Linked DNA regions of Homo sapiens: region 1 is linked to region 2. Evidence: fine-mapped expression QTL. A gene starts in region 2. The other region holds a variant in brackets. All regions are shown on one strand. Distances are from middle to middle.

Region 1 (8,340 bases), 57 kb after region 2:
CACTGTATCTTGAATGGAGTTGTCATCTGTGTACCCCTCTGCAGGTGAGCAAGAATAAACTGGATTTGTACAGGGGGTACCAATACTAATAATCACAGTTATTCCATTCACTGGAATGGAACTTTAAAGGGAGTTCTTTTCTTTTATTGTTAAAGAGATAGGCCCAGGTGTGTGTGTGTGTGTGTGTGTGTGTGTGTGTGTGTGTGTGTGTGTCAATAAAAGGCTCTGCTGAGATTCTTGGTGGGTGGTTTGCAAGGCTGTGTGTGTGTGTGTGTGTGTGTGTGTGTGTGTGTTGTGTGTCAATAAAAGGCTCTGCTGAGATTCTTGGTGGGTGGTTTGCAAGGCTGGGTGTAGAAGACTGACATGAGCAGGGATTGATTTGCTGCCTCCCAAATACATGTGGAGAAACAGCCCAAGGAGGCTGGCATTTTGCTATATCCACCTTTCTGCTTCTTCCTTTTTAAGTGGTAAAGGCACTACTAAAACCTCGGGGGTGGGGGGTTCTCCAAGTTGGAGGGTGAGAGCAATAATATTCATTAACTGGTTAATGCTTAATGTGGGTGGGCTTGAGCCTAACAAAACTGTGTGTTCTCCTAAATTTGGGGTTAGGAAAAGATCATTTTATCCTTGTCTGATTTTAAACCAGTCAAAAATATGTGTAGGACAAGTAAGTTGCTTGTTCATATGAAGTCCTAAGAAATCATTAAGTATTGATTTGAATTTATTTACTCTGTCCCTTCTGAGTCTCTTAACTAAAAAACTTATATGCTGCTAAACACCATTTTAAAAGATTTCTGGTAGTCTTGGATTTGTTTTTCTCTTAAGACTGAAAAATGATCCAGTTATCTAATTTATGCTAGTATTTGATTGTCTAAATGCCACTTCTCTGGTAGTGATATCTGACAATTCTGTTTTTGAAATGATTCTTTAATTTGCTCAGGTATAATGAAAGGGGTTTTTTTGTTTGTTTGTTTTTAAACAGACTGTAGGCCTTGATTGCTTTGAAAGTTTCTAACTACCCCACCCACCACTCCCTGATCAGCCTGTCTGTATTACATGAGTTGTCCAACACTTATTAAAGATTTGGCAGTAATTACTCTGTCCCCCACCTCCAGGTTTTTGCCCCCCATCAAAAAACTAAATGAATATTAAAGTTCATGCTGACAGTCATTGTTCACCTTCCCAGCTGCACTCTGTTCCTCCAGGATGACTGTGTGGATCGAGGAGGCAGGGGGGAGCGTGTTGCCATAGCCACCTATGAGAAACACTGGACCTGGCATTAGCTGCTGACAGCAATGAACTTATCACCCATATTTAATGCTGGTGTGAATGAGGGGGCCCTAAGTAAAACACTCTTGTCTTGGTGGCTGAAAAGAAAGTTCCCTGAGCTTCTCCTGTATGAGGGAAAGCACGCACAGCTGAGCCTGGGCTGTACATGCTCTCAGTGTTCTCTTCATGGTGTTCTTCCCATCTTGGAGAAGGAAATAGGGGATCATAGTGTGACACCAAAATGGAACAAGGATTCCCAAGGTATTCCTTTGAAGAGTGACAGTATTTTCATTTATTTCCTTTGTGTGAAAAAATGTGTAAAAGTGATCAATAATAGCTACCATTTATTTCTGTTGGAGTTAATGTTAACAATAATAGCTTTTAGTTGTGAAAATAATTTGCCTCTTAGGGAGACAGATGTTGGCTACAGTAATAATCCCATGAAATCAAATGACCATTGGAAAACCCTGGCCATATCTGTTCTAATGTCTTCTGTCTTTGGGGATGAAACAAAGGAAAATGCTTCCCCATGTTCTTCCCCACCATCTGCTTTGCAGTGGCTGCCTTACCTGAGTTGAGACGCAGCACAGAAGAGGCTTTTACAGATCTTGTAGGATGATGTATTTTCCCTTCGTGAGAACAACCTGAAATGAACCAACAACTGTTACTTTTCTTTGGCCAGGGATACGTTTGGCCTGACCAACTTCTGAATTCCTTATTGTGGTAAAGGCTTGAGCTTGCAGGTGTGTGTCAAGATAAGTTAGGTATGGTGTGGAAACATGTAGGCCCAGGGTAAAGTCCTGAGATTTTGCTAAATGAATGTTAAAGTTCATGCTGTAGGAGATCTTTCTAAAGGTGCTCTTGCTTATCTTTTTTTCTCTTGAGCCAGCAAGGCTTCTTGAACTCTACTGGGTCTATTTGGATGGGCTCTTTGCAGAGCTGAAAATGTTTCAATTTACAGCAGTTAATCTGCTGAACAAATATTTACTATAGTGCATGGGTGTTGAGCATTCTCATAGTGGGCAACCCTATAACATCTCAGCATAGGAAAAGTCAAAGTGATACAGGCAGAGTCTAGCTAAGTCGTGAATGCTCCAAATGGGTAATGCAAGGAGGAGACTCAAGCAGGGGTCTGGAGAGGTTTAAACAGTAAAGCTTGAGGGCACTCTGGGCTGAGATGCTAGAATGCCTCACGAAACCAAACAATTATGACCCAGTATCGCTGGGAGGCAGGAATGAAATGGTGCTTGAGAAATATTAGGTTGGTGCAAAATTAATTGCAGTTTTGACCATTTTTAATAATACAATTAATTTTGCACCAACCTAATTTATCTGAATGGAAGTTTACCCAATGTAATTAAATTCTACTTCAGATTCTGATGTGGTACTCTGGGGGTACTTGTGAACTACAAAGTAGGCAGAAGGACAGTTACCATAGATTTGCTTAAGCACTGAGTGCTTGGTGGACTTTGTGCCTGAGGTGCCCTTGGATGGACTCTTGGGGGCCTTGCTTACTGCAGTGGTTTGGGGGAATTTTAGTTCCAGTTCCTTCCTCCAAACCTGGAGGAGCAATGCTGTAGACTCTTGCCTCCATCTGTCCACATCTCCAGCTCCAAGCTGCTTCATATGCCGAAGGTGGGACAGGTGCTTCCTGAGCTGGTAGCTGGTTGGGTCAGAGGAGAGGAGAGGCTTTAAGATCACAGTACTGAGAAAACTAAATTTCCTTAAGGTTTCTAGAAGCTATAGGAGTAGTATTTGCTGAATTCCTGGTAGGTTCATTCAAGCTCCCATTCCTAATTTTGGCGGCAGCATGTTGAATGTGGAATTCTTTTTCCATTATCAAACACCTCCTGAACTAGGATTCAATCATGATTCCTTGCCTTCAAGGAGCTCACAGACTAGTGGAACAGGCTGCTGTGTAAAGAGGTACGTGTGGCATGAGAGTACTGTGCAAGAGCAAGGAGCTGGTTGTGCAAACAGATGCAGGACTGACTGATGGTTTGGTAAGGTTTCACAAGGTTAATATTTGTGCTGGATTTTAAAAGATGAATAGGAGCTTACCAGGCAGAGAAGGGCATTCTACGTAGCAGAACTGGCATCAGCAGAGATAGATAGAGGCATTTGTGCCAGAAAGTCAGTAACACAATGTGGAAGCACTGTGTCTTTGGTGACGAAAGGGGGCTTTAGAGTGGTAAAGGTATGAGCTGCATCTTACTAAGATAAGTCTGTTGGAGGTGGGTTTAGAGTGGGTGAGGAATGGGGATGATGGCTATATTTACATCTAGGATTTATTTGATGTTTTCAGTCCCACATGCACTCCCAAACTTACTGAGCACAACAACTATTTTGAGGCCTCCAAAGGAAAGCTGCAGCAATGTTTATTATCTGTATCTGTCTTTATTCCTAGTGAGCCTATAGGTAGCTGCAGAGAGCAACAGGCTTCATGTCTGATTTTACAGTGATCCCATTTGGGCTGCACCAAATGGGAAGTAATCTTTTTCCTAAGTCTGCTAAAAGCTCCTTGCAGCGCTTGGTGCAGCCCCTCCCTCCTTCCCCAAAGGCTGATTTCAGTCAGCCTACACTACTCTTCCTTCTGTCCTGGAGGGTAACACCATGGCATCCCTCTACTAGAATACGTACCACATTTCCAAAAAGCCAAGTCTAGAGAAAAGTATGGCACTACCGCGCTATAATTCAGTTTCTCCTGTTTGAAATGCTGTCTTCCATACCTTCTGCTCTTGTGGGCACAGAACTTGGGGGGAAGCCCAGGTAGTGGCTGAAGCTGTTAATGGTGTCAGCCCTCAGTGGGCCCAGCAGCACCTTTCCTGCTCAGCTTGTCCAGGATCCTGTTTCAATCTTTAAAATAGTCATCTTACTTGGTTATTAAACTGACAATTTTAAGATCAAGTTTCATTTTCTCAGGACCCAAGGTTCATTTTGCCCACTTCTTCCCTGCCTGTTTTCCAGCTCCTTTTCTCCATCCTCCACCTGTCCCCTATAACCACAGCCTGCACTGAACACTTAGTGTCCAGCCCTGACCCCTGCCCCAGCCCTCACTGCTTAGGTTTGCTATCAGATACACTTGCAGGACAGCGCTTCAGGCTCCTGTATTTACAATAGAAAATGTAGTTAAAATATAA[T/C]AGAATCAATAAAAGTGTGTTTACTGTCACCAGACTTGGCTTTCTGCAATGTGCAACAATCCCAGAAGTCCTTTGGGCCTCAGAATTGCACAATGGCACATCCAGAGGGGGCCTGTGTAGTTACCTACGCAGGTGGGCATGTTAGACCATAAGCCCACTGTTCTTGGGGGAATGACTGAAGGCTCATTTGCTACTCTGGTCACTTACTGACAGGACCTGTCAGCTTCTGACTCTTCAAAGGAGTCAGACAGTCGGAGAAGGAGACATTTCAGGTAGGGAGCAGCTGTGGGGTCTGGCGTGGTAAACCTTGCTGGCTTGTTTAGATCCTAGATTTTAGCCAGAATACTTAAAAAGTTCATCTGGATGGTAGCCAGTGCATGTCCCACAGAGTGCAATGGCCATTTCCACCTGTGGCTTTCGAGGCCGACTGTCTTGGCTCAAAGCCAGCCCTGGCACTTGCTCTGTAATGTTGGTGAGTTGATGAACCTCTCTGTGCTTCAGTTTCCTCATCTGTGTAACGGGGATAAGAACAATACCTACCTTGCAGGGTTATCAGTGACGATTACATGCACAGGTAAAACTAGTTTGAACAGTGGCACAAGTGTCCAATAAATAATACTAGTATGTTAACAATTGGTAGTAGTAACATCACCCTTCTCCTGGTTACCCTGATGTGTGTGACACCAACCAGGCAGCCTTCTCCAGCCTATTTTCAGGCAAAGTGCATGGGGCCCACCTCCACCTCCCTTAGCTTGACCACAGCAAAAACTAACTTCACTAATAATGTAAGGGAAAGGCCCTTGGATTTGAGTCAGCCAGAGGTTCAAGTGCTGGATCTGCACCAAAAGGACAAGTCAGTTTTTCCTCTCGTCTGAAAAATGGGGATACTGCTCCCTGTCATGATGGCTTCCTGGTGTGGTTGGGAGTTCACATGGGGTCAGGCATGAGAGGACTTTGTTAATGGCCAAGAGCTGAAACAGACATAGGGAGAACACATTGCAAAGCCTGTGCAAGCACAAACCAGATCACCCGGCTCTGGGTTAGGCAGTCTCTGGTATGATATGAACGGAGGCCTCTCCCTGGACCTCCTGGGAATCTATCTAGTTTTCTCCCTGCCAATGTTAAGGAGAGAACGTCTTCCTTTTTCTCCTGACGGGAACCTCGATATCTCATACACCTGTGCCGCATTATTTCCTTGCCTTGTCTCCCTCCCCATCCGTCTTCCTCTCCCCAGTGATGGCGGCGACATAACTTCCACCTATTTCTTTTCTTGAGACAGGGTCTCACTCTGTCGCCCAGGCTGGAGTTCTGTGGCATGGTGATGGCTCACTGTGGCCTTGACCTCCTGGGCTCAAGCGATCCTCCTGCCTCAGCCTCACAAATAGCTAGGACTACAGGCATGTGCCACCATGCGTAGGTAATTGTTGTACTTTTTGTAGAGACGGAGTTTGGCCGTGTTTCCTGGGGTGGTCTCGTCTCATAACCCTGGGTTCAAGTGATCCTCCCTCCTCGGCCTCCCAAAGTGCTGGGGTTACAGGTGTAAGCCACTCTGCCCGGCCAACTCCCACCTATTGGTGATGGGTCCAGCTTCTCTCTGGACATTCATCACTGTAAGGCCTAATTTAGATTTAGGCTCTAGTGAGGCTTTCAGGATGAAAGAGATTATGAGACGTGAACATTTGTAGCAATAAGACCCCTCAAGTCCTCCCATAATCATCCCCTAGCGGCATTTGTCTCTACTATATTGGGAGTCTGTTTCAGGCTTTTAGGACAGCCTTCACCCCCACTCCCAGTGCCTACTATGTATTTTGAGCTTGGTAGATGCTCAGACAGGTTTACATAATACAGTTTAGTCACTCAATCTGTTATATCCAGACCCTGGTTTAGGTGTTTGGAGTATGACTAGTTCCTGGGTAGTAAAGACATAAGAATAAAAATAAAGTATCTCCTATGTGTAGTAATTTAGAATTAATGAAGCGTGCATTATCTCATTCCAGCAACCTGTCATATTAACAGGACATGTGCAACAATTATTAAATCCTGTTTTACAGATGAAGAAGCAGAGGGTCAGGGGGGCCATGTGATTTGCCCAAAGTCACATAACCTGTTAGAGCTTACCTGAACCTCACATTTCATGGTTACAAACCCAGGGCTTTTTCCTTTACCCCATGCTGTCCTGAGCACTTTCCCATCTTTCTAGGCAAAAACATCTTCCAAATGGTTTATACAATGTAAATTACTAGGATCTGGTGTGAATTTCATGGGTAGGCTCTATAAAATTGGCCTTACCATGCCACCACATGGAACTCACTGGGAAAACATCAAAGAGCACAGATGTCATGTTGAGAATATCAGTAACAAAGAACCACAGATGCGGCAGCACCCCATTTTCCTACCTTCGCCAGGCGCGCTGGATGACTGCTGCTGCCTTGTTCTTTTTGCGAAACAGCTCCTTCCTCCTTCGTTCTCTCTGAATTATCTGCAGTCGGAGCTCTACGGGGAGAAGGTCAATATTCACACTCTGCCCAGAGAGGGGACCAGGTGCTGGATCAGTCTCCTTAGATACCTGAAAGTCCTCGGACAGGGTAGATGTCTCCAGCCTCCTAGCTCCTGACCTCAACTCCTCTGTGCTCTGTGGCAAATGTGAATAGAGCCCTCCTGTGAGCTTGGCTTGTGTCACTTTGTTTCTTGGTGTACGATGGTGGGGAGGATTCTGCCCAGCATGGACCGCCTCCCCCCGGGCACTGCCAGGGCGGCTAGAACCAGCCGGAGAGCACCTTCCTCCTCTGAGCTCTTGAGTGCGCCTTTTCTGGGGGGCACATTTGGCCTTGGGTTCTGTGTCATGCCGCCTGCTGGGCTTCCAGTGGCTATCGTGCGGTGGAAGGCTTGCAGCTGCCCGCCTGGAGTCCTCTCCTTTCTCATCAGGCCCAGCCACCCTGATACAGGAGGGCTGCTTCACGAAGCCTTTCCCCTTTGCACACCGCTCATCGCCAGCTGTCTCACCTCTGGACTTCTCAACAGAGGGAACTCCTGGATGCCTGCTTCCATCACTGCCTTCATTGGGTCTGAAGTGGACACAAGCAGATTGGCCTTTAGAATGTTCTCTGGCTGTTTCTTGAGGAAACAAAGAAAAAATATTGTCCAAAACTTGCAGAGTAGGATAATTTTCCTAATATGTTCACATAAAATATTCAGACTTAGCCTATATCATCACCATAATAGTGGCAGTTACAGACTAGGAAAAAAACGGTTTAACTTCTATTTCCAGCAATATGGTAGGTTAGATAACCTGAAGCCCTTCTCGCCTTAACGAAAATATAGTGGATATCCTTTGGAAAGCACTGTCATGCCTTTAAGAAAATAAAGGAACTCTGGAGGCCAAAAACAAAGAGAAAATTGAAAATCAAAGCAATTAAGTATGTGAGCTGATCCAGTGACTGTCTAGGCAGGTAATGGTGGTGGAGTGGGCAACAGATGGTCTTATTAAATATCTGGCTGTGCTTTAACATCTACATAAGAACAGAAAATGAGTCCTTGCAGGAAGAAAGTTAACTGGAACCAAGACTCTACATGAAGCCAGCACTCTTGAAGGGATATACCTTTTGGAAATAATCCAGATTTTAAAATCTGCTCTCCAGCACTTAGAGATGACAAGGAAGTTTGTTTCAGCCCAGGTTCTGGATGGGGTAAGGAGTCTCCCATAAGAATTTAAAACCAAAGTCGTCTTCCTTACATGGGCTTGGTATTCATTTATTCTCAATCCATAGGAGATATTACTATAAAAACTGGTCTTAGGATGGAGATATCCCAGGATGCCTCACAGAAGCAAACACAATATTGCTTTAGTGTGACATGCCCTCAACTCAGGCTGCACAACGGAGTCCTCTGAAAATGACTTCACAATCCAAAATCACAAAATGCATGAGGAAAC
Region 2 (8,280 bases):
CACATTCCAGAATGTATGTTCGTTGTAAATAATGTTTTTCTGGCATGGGTGAAGGACCTTGATTAATTACATGCTTGTTATTTATCAAAGATCTCTTCAAGCTCGGGAAGTGATCAATCCTTACAATTGTTGCGTTCATCACTTAAGAGTTGGAAAAAGCCTGTCTTCAAGTACAAACTTTTTATGTCCTAAACCAGAGACAGTAAACTGGCAACTGGCAATAAGTATTTTGTTTGGCCTACACAGTGTTTCGAAAATAGGGGGAAAAATGTACTTGCCAATATTTAAAGAGCAGATTTCTTATAAACATTTCTGGATGTTATGGTTTGAATGTCCCCTCCAAAACTCATTTTGAAATTTAATTGCCACTCTAACAGTATTGAGAAGCCGGACCTTTAAGAGGTGATTAGGTTATGAGGGCTCTGCCCTCATGAATAGATAATTGTTATTGTGGGAGTGGGTTAGTTATCCTGGGTGTGAGCTCTTGACAAATAGGATGAATTCAACCTGATTTGTTCTCTCTGTCTCTAGAGCTCACTTCTGCCTTCTACCCTTCTGTCATGGTATGGATGACCCTCACCAGATGCTGATGCCACACTCTTGGACTTCTCAGCTGCAGAAGCATTAGCCAAATAGTCTTCTGTTCATTGTAAACTACCCAGTCTGTGGTATTCTGTTATAGCAGCAGAGAATGGACTTAAACACTGGATTTCCGGTTTGCTTGAAAAATGAGAAGATTTGCATTTCCTCATGACAACAGTTGACTGTTGCTGAAGATCTGCTGCTTCCTTTAGTCAGGCCAGGAGTACTTCTGTCAGCTACATAGCCACCAGACCCACTTAATGGGCTGAGTCTATAAACCCTGTGCTGCAGTGAAGTAGGGAAACAATAAGAGCTAGTGTTTGCTCAGCACCGCTATGTAGCAGGTGCTTCCTAGACATTTATTCAACAAATATTTATTGAGGGCCTACTAGGTGCCAGACACTGCTCTAGCTACTTGGAATATACCAGGGAATAAAACAAACGACCCATGTAAAACTTACATATTAGTGGTGGATGAAGGACAGAATCAAATAATCATTATGATAAATAAGTAAATTACATGGTATATTAGAAGGCGATATGTTCTTTTTTATTTTATTATTATTATACTTTAAGTTTTAGGGTACATGTGCACAATGTGCAGGTTAGTTACATATGTATACATGTGCCATGCTGGTGTGCTGCACCCATTAACTCGTCATTTAGCATTAGGTATATCTCCTAAAGCTATCCCTCCCCCCTCCCCCCACCCCACAACAGTCCCCAGAGTGTGATGTTCCCAGAAGGTGATATGTTCTAAAGGGAAATTGCAAGTCCTGGGAGAAGGTAATTTGTTATTTTAAATGAGGTGGTCAGGGTAGGGCTCCCTGAGAAGATATTTGAGTGGACTCGGGAGGAGAGGGAGTTAGCCACATGGACTTATTGGGGAAGAGTGTTTCAGGCAGACAGAAAAGCTAAAGAAAAGGTCCAAAAGCAGGAGTGTGTCACTGGTGTTTGAGGAAGGCAAAGAAGCAAGTGTGACTGGAGCAGAGTAAAAAAGGGGAGAGTGGAAGGAGGAGTGCTCAGATGGTAAGAGACTGTGTCAGAATATGGAAGAGCTTGAGAACTGATATGGTTTGGATATTTGTCCCTGCTCAAATCTCATGTTGTGTTGTAATCCTCAATGCTGGAGGTGGGGCCTGGTGGGACATGCTTGGGTCATGGGGGTGGATCCCTCATGGCTTGGTGCTTGTTTAGTGATAGTGAGTTCTCATCAGATTTGGCTGTTTAAAAATGTGTGGCACCTCTCTCTCTCTCTGTCTCTTTTCTTTTGCTCTCTCTCTTGCTCCTGCTTTCAACATGTGACATGCCTGTTCCCCCTTCACCTTCTATGATTGAAAGCTCCCTGAGACTTCACCAAAAGCAAGCAGATGCCAACATAATGCTTCCTGTAAAGCCAGCAGAATCATGAGCCAATTAAACCTCTTTTCTTTGTAAATTACCCAGTCTCAGGTATTTCTTTATAGCCATGCAAGAACAGCCTAAGGGAAGGCCCTAGAAAGGACTCTGGGTTTTACTCGAAGTGAAATAGGGAGCCATTAAAGGGTTTTGAGCCAAAGAGTGATCTGATCTAACCTAGATCTTAAAATAATCACACAGCTGCTCTGCTGATACCAGACTGTAGGGGGAAGAAGGACAATAAGGGAAGCAGGAAGATGTGTTTGCAGGCTTTTTGCAGTGATCAAGAAGCGGCTTGGACCAGAATGGTAGCAGGGGAGGTGTGTTAACTGGTGAAAGTTAGGATGTCTTTAAAGGTAGAGTCAATCTCCAGATGGATTAGATGTGAGGTGTGGAACAAAGAGGCCAAACCAAAAACCCAAAGGTTTCTGCTTGAGTAACTGCAAGGACAGACTTACTATTTGAGATGAATAAGCTGTAGGAAGAGTAGATTTCAAGGGGAAAATCATCAGTAGCTCTGTTTTGGACAAGTTGACCTTGAGATGTATACTGGATATCTGAAGGAAACATTGAAAAAACTGTTGGATACAAGTTTGGAGTTCCAGGGACTTGTCTGGTTGGCAATAAATCTTTCCTCTTCTGATCTAGTCTCATAGCTTTAAACAGAATATAATGCCACATAATGCCAATGACTCCCAAATATTTATGGTTATGGTCGATTCCAGGCAGATTGTGGTGATGTGGCCATATTGCCAGCAAAGGGAGGTCAGGGTTTCTAGCGCTGCCTCTTTATCTCCGATTATGGAACAGGCATGGTTTTAGTTCCAGTGCTTGGGTCTCCCTGGATTTAGACATCATTCCTTTGAATTCCCACCCAATATAATGAGGGTCAATATCTTCGCTAGCTTTACTAAGTCTTAATTATCTGGTGAGGTGTAGACACAAATTTGAATCAAGGTCTGAAGTCCTTACCTGGGGCTCTTTCTTCCATGCCATCATGCCAGTCTTTGTGAAGACATTTTTCAAAGGCTCATTCTTCTTACCTCTTTTCTAGGAATTTTAGTTTATTTCTTTACTTAACTTCAGAAATTAATTTCTCACTTCATTTTAGTAGCAGGAATGTTAGTGCTGAGAAACTGAGATGTTAGGGAGAATCCTTGACCAAGACTTCCAGGCTCTAGATACTAGGTGTGTCTTGCTCTAATTAAGGAAATCTTATCTGCTCCATCTTAGCCCAGTTTAACGTCCCCAGGAATTCCATCTTCTGCAGTCCTAAACTTTTCCCTTTTTCAATTCAGTGCAACTTATACTCTTCTCTGAAAGTGGCTCCAGGTCTGAAGAACTGTGGTCTGGGAGGAATAGAAAAGCATGCTCAGCTATAACCAGGCCCACATCCCCTAAGTTGCCTGCCCACCAAGTTACGGGCCGGACTTATGCGCCACGCTTTGTCCGGGGACCTCGCGCTGTCCTCCCTCCGGTTCCCACAGAGCAGGGGGCTTCCGGCGGGGTACCCTCCTCTGTGGGCGGGGCCTACCGCTCCCGCTCCCGCCTCCCCGGTTGCGCGCGGCTGCGGGCTGCGATCACGTGAGCACAGCAGGGAGGGGGAGGGGCCCTGATTTCCGGGCGGCGGAAGGAGACGCGGCCGCGTGAGGACGAGGCTATTTGAAAACACGCTCCGGGAGCTAGAGCCTGAGGTCGGCGGCGCACGCTGTTGCCCCGTGGGCTTCTGCTCCCTCGCTTGTCTTCTCGGGCTTCTCGCCCCGGCCGCGGCCGGGTCCTCAGGTAAGCGGCCGTCGCCCGTCGGGCCGGGTCCTCCCGGGGCGCGGGACTGAGCGTGGTGGGGCCGTCGCCCCCCGATCCGCGGCCCAAGCGGGCAGGGTCGGCCGTGCACGATTTGCGTCCCCCGGGTCTGGGCCGCGGCGTCCCTCCGAGCTGGGCCTGGGTGTGCGGCCGGCACTGCGGGGGCGGGACCCCCTAGGGCGTTTGCGGAGCTTCAGGTGACTGGGCGGGTTCGCCTGGTTTCGGGTCCGAGAGAGTTTTAGCCCGGAGTGTGTGAATCGGGCCCCACTTCCCCGACTCTGGTCCTGGCCGGCGTCCCTTGGAGTAGGAGGAACGATGGTTTCCTAAAACCCATGGTGTGTTCGCCTCTGGGATGGATGCAGGACCGAATACGGAGTGGGGATGAGCTGGCGTCCCCTGTTCCGTCCTCTGGTCGCCCAGGCGGGAGAGTTAAGCGAGCGGAAGGGGACTACCAGTTTTCTGGGGTCGCCCCTGCCTGGGCCATTTGCTTTTTGGGAAGTCTGTCGCCTCTGGTTGGCCCCTCAGTGGAGTTTGGAGGAACTCATGAGTTTAAGGGTTTGGGGAGGAAATTATCAAAGGCCGAGTGCAGTACGATCGTTCTCTCTGATTTTTTTTGGAAAAGAAGGTGGAAATGAGGAAGGGTAAGAAGGTGGCAGGCAAACTATTTATAGTTGGAATTTAGTTCGATTGAAATCCTAAAAACGCTAGGATCTGCCTTTTGTTGGAATTAGAAAAGACCTACAGTAGGAATGTGTGACATTCAGCTTTGAAACTATTGGGGATCGCAAACCTAAGGACTAGTGATGTGAGCTCCTCCTCTGAGACTGGCGTTCCTACCTTTTGCTAAAAACCGGCTACTGTAAAAGTGGCTTAGTGGGACTTTTTGATTTGCTGTGTTATGAAAATCTTTGTTATAAGTTAAAGTCAATTACTAGTAGAACTTTGAGAGTTCTTCGCATGAAAATGCTTTGTATCCCGTAATAATATTACTAGGTTTGAAAAGTCAAGGAAGGTCAATCAGCCTTCTTAATTTTCCTAACAGAGAAAGCATTAATGTGACTAATACAAAGCGATAGATAATATGGCATGAAGTTGACAGTAGACTGTTGAAGATCTATCAGGTGGTTAATGGCTAAATAGAACCCACAGGAGTGGAGGAGGAAGGGAGTTAATTTTTCTGAATGTCCTGTACCATTTACTTTCGTGTCTAGTACCAGCTAGTAATAAAATTGTAGGAAAAGCTCACAAAGTGTGCTTGCTTAATTAATGAAAACCATTTTTGTATTAAAAGAGGCCAGGTGAGTATCATGGCCTTCTTTTTAGGCCTTATTCCCTCCCACCCACCCACCCACCGACCCCCAGCTTTTTTTTTTGTTTTGTTTTGTTTTTTAAGACTAAGGTAACTAGAGGTGTGGGTGAGATGAAAATTTGGTAATAGGGACAAATGAAATAAGCCAAACTGTTTTGCCACGAAGACTTCCAGTCTTCAGGTTAATTCTGGTATGTTAAAGGTGGTTTTGCAGAGCTCAGTTCTGTGAATGAATCCCTTTTCAACTTCTTGATAAAGGCGTGACTTCCAAACTTTTCTGAGGTACATTGTTAAAATGGGTTTAGTTCCACCTACCTTGCATGGTTCTGTGCAGATTGTATACTGAGGTACACAATGCATCTAGTACCGGGCTTGGTATGTCCTGATCCTGAGACTTGAGGGACACGCACATGTTTATGCTTTGAGCATACGTATTTAACCATGTACCAGGCACAGTTCTGAGTGTTTTACAATTGTGTATGATTATCCCTATTTTGTAGATAGAAATTGGGACAGTGTACAGCTGGAAGGCGTCAGAGTTTGGATAAAAGCCTAATCAATCTGGTTGTAGAATTGGTTCTTAACCTGTGGGAAATCCTACCTCATGGCGATCTAATATAACCCTGTAATTAAGTAAATTTGGATATATTGTCATAGCTGATTGGCTTCTGAATTCCTTGAACTTGAGCTGTTCAGTATTGCACTGGCCATTTTATTAATATTGTAATAAAGGAAACTTTCGTTTTACCCATTTTTTTATACCCTCATGTGTAGCATTGTCACTTTTTATGGCCAGGCACAGGATAATTATGATAAACCAGGAGATTAGCAGAAGTTTTATATATTCCAGAGGTACTTACCCTATTCAAGTGGTGTACAGTATTGTTCTCAGGTGTGGAAAAGGCTTCAAGAAGAATTTAGCTGGTTCCAGGTAGAAGAGGCTATTGTTTTAGATAGAGATTAGCTTGTGGGAAGATAAAGCTGGAGAGGATGGATGGGGCCACATTAGGAAGGACCTCATATGTCCTGCTAAGGAGGTTTTACTATGTATGAGGAATAGAACAGCTGAGAACTCTTGAGTCTTGGTCATGAGATCTGTGTTCAGAGAGAGCTGTTTCGTAAAGGGCCAGTGGACTAGAGAGGAGACACTAGATAGTAGGCAGGAGTACCAGTGGGGAAGGTATTGAATGGTAGAAATAAAGGACTTCTTGAAAGTAGTGGCCTGGAAATGGGTAAGAGACACAGATCAAAGATTTCATGTGTAAGTGCAAGGTTTGGAATGTGGTATAGAGGGGGAGGAAGTACAAGATGGCATGGTGTTATGCCTGAGTTATTTATTATAATAGTGGCTTAGCTGGTCTTTGTTCCTTATCCCCCTATTACATTATATTTCTTTTTATGCTGCTTTTTATCCTTTTTGGGGACCAAGGGGGAATACTGTTTTCTGTTTAGTCTGAGGTTTATTCACTTTTGCTGTGCTAGGTTTATCCCCTACACCTGATCTTTACCTTGTTTTCCTTGCTCTTGAAAGGCCTATTATTCTCCTTGCTGTGTATTTGAATATTACCCATTTTTCACATGCTCAGCTTAGGTTCATAAATCTTTTTCTAATGGTTATAGGCTGCATTAAAGAATAACATTGGTTTTCCAACTTTGTTTGGTATTGCTAGAGAAGTTCCTCCGAGGCTCTTACGAAGCCCAGGAGCACACCAGCAGATACAAGTTACATCTCTAGGAAGTCTGTGCTGCTCTCCTACACTCGAACAAAGGAAAACAAAAAAAAAACACATTTCAGAAGGTTTCCCTTTAGCATATAGCTTGACAAAAGGTTCTGTGACCCAAAAAACTTTGCAAAACCGTGGCAAGACTGTTGCCTTGTTACAGTATTTTATCACTAAACTGAGTTTTTAATAGTTCTTAACAGCATTTTTTAATATTTTGATCTTTCAGCATAATCAGATTCTTGATTACGATTGAAATAAATGTTACAGTAGTATGTGTTGGAAAGTGCCTTTTTTCATAATTTATTCTTGTCTCTATCCATTGCTTTTAATTAATTCTTTTCATTATAGTAGTCGAGAATGACTAAAAAAAGAAAACGCCAACATGATTTTCAAAAAGTAAAATTGAAAGTTGGTAAAAAGAAGCCCAAGTTACAAAATGCTACTCCTACAAACTTTAAAACAAAGACTATACATCTGCCTGAGCAACTCAAAGAGGATGGAACACTTCCAACAAACAATAGAAAACTTAACATAAAGGTAAATCATAAATCATGTTTTGACAAAATAAGATTTTCTTTGGAATCGTGTAGAATGTTATATTTTTGTGAAAATTTGTCTAAACTCTTAGAGTAAATAGTTTGCCTAGGGTCTTAGGGTTTATTGATGTTTGGAGTTTATCTTTTACCCAAAGATCTCTCATGCAGCTGTGTCTTTCCACTTCCTCCAGAAACGTTCGCTAAACTAAATGCACAGTTGTTTCTCCCTGGTATATTTATTTGATGATTTATTTATTTATTTATTTATTTATTTTGAGACAGGTCTCACTCTTACACCATGTTGAGCACAATGGGGTGCTATCATGGCTCACTGCAGCCAGGACCTTCTGGGCTCAAGTGATCCTCCTACTTCAGCCTCCCAAGTAGCTGGGGCTGCAGGCGAGCGTCACCATGCCTGGCTAATTTATTTTTTTGTGGAGGCAAGGTTGCAATATGTTGCCCAGGCTGGTCTCAAACTCTTGGATGCAAGCAATCCTCCAGCCAAGGCCTCCTGAGGTGCTGGGATTGTAGGCGTGAACCACGGCACCTGGCTGTATCTGGAAATAATTCTTACATGTTTTTGATGTGTCAAATTTTTGATGAACAGTTTTCTAGCTGTTTTTTAGCGAATTAAGATACAATCCTGTCATTCATTTTTGAACCCATACAGCACATAGTTTATTATAGGTTTGTAGTAAATACTTGAAGTCAATTGAAGTTTGAGAAGTGTTGCTTAAGAATCTAACAGCTTTATGGAGATATAATTTACACATAATTAAAATCTCTCATTTAAAGAATACAATTCATTGGTTTTGGTATATTTACAGAGTTATGCTACTATCACCTTAATCTAATTTTAGAACGTTTTTATCACTCCAAGAAGAAAACTTATACCCATTAGGAATCACTTCTCATTTCTTCCAGCCCTAGG

What was found. PIP is the estimated chance that this variant, and not a neighbour inherited with it, causes the effect. A credible set is the group of variants that fine-mapping cannot tell apart.
Region 1: its variant is the best candidate, but not a certain one, in a credible set for the expression of TEX10 in whole blood (INTERVAL, PIP 0.66).

The regions. Positions count from the first base shown.
Region 1 is chr9:100,291,509-100,299,848 of GRCh38, reverse strand. It overlaps INVS (inversin), which reads right to left. Exons shown (of 17, transcript NM_014425.5): 14 at 6,806-7,523; 15 at 2,703-2,932; 16 at 1,839-1,913. Among named protein-coding and RNA genes, the nearest start is that of TEX10, 57 kb to the left of the region's middle. The variant T/C (reference allele first, on the strand shown) is at 4,410.
Region 2 is chr9:100,348,254-100,356,533 of GRCh38, reverse strand. It overlaps TEX10 (testis expressed 10), which reads left to right and starts at 3,592. Exons shown (of 15, transcript NM_017746.4): 1 at 3,592-3,762; 2 at 7,162-7,350. The coding sequence starts at 7,171. LOC105376177 (a long non-coding RNA gene) reads right to left here and starts at 3,484. Exons shown (of 4, transcript NR_188642.1): 1 at 2,953-3,484; 2 at 2,439-2,537. RefSeq lists enhancers at 3,265-3,899, 4,304-4,353 and a silencer at 3,414-3,963.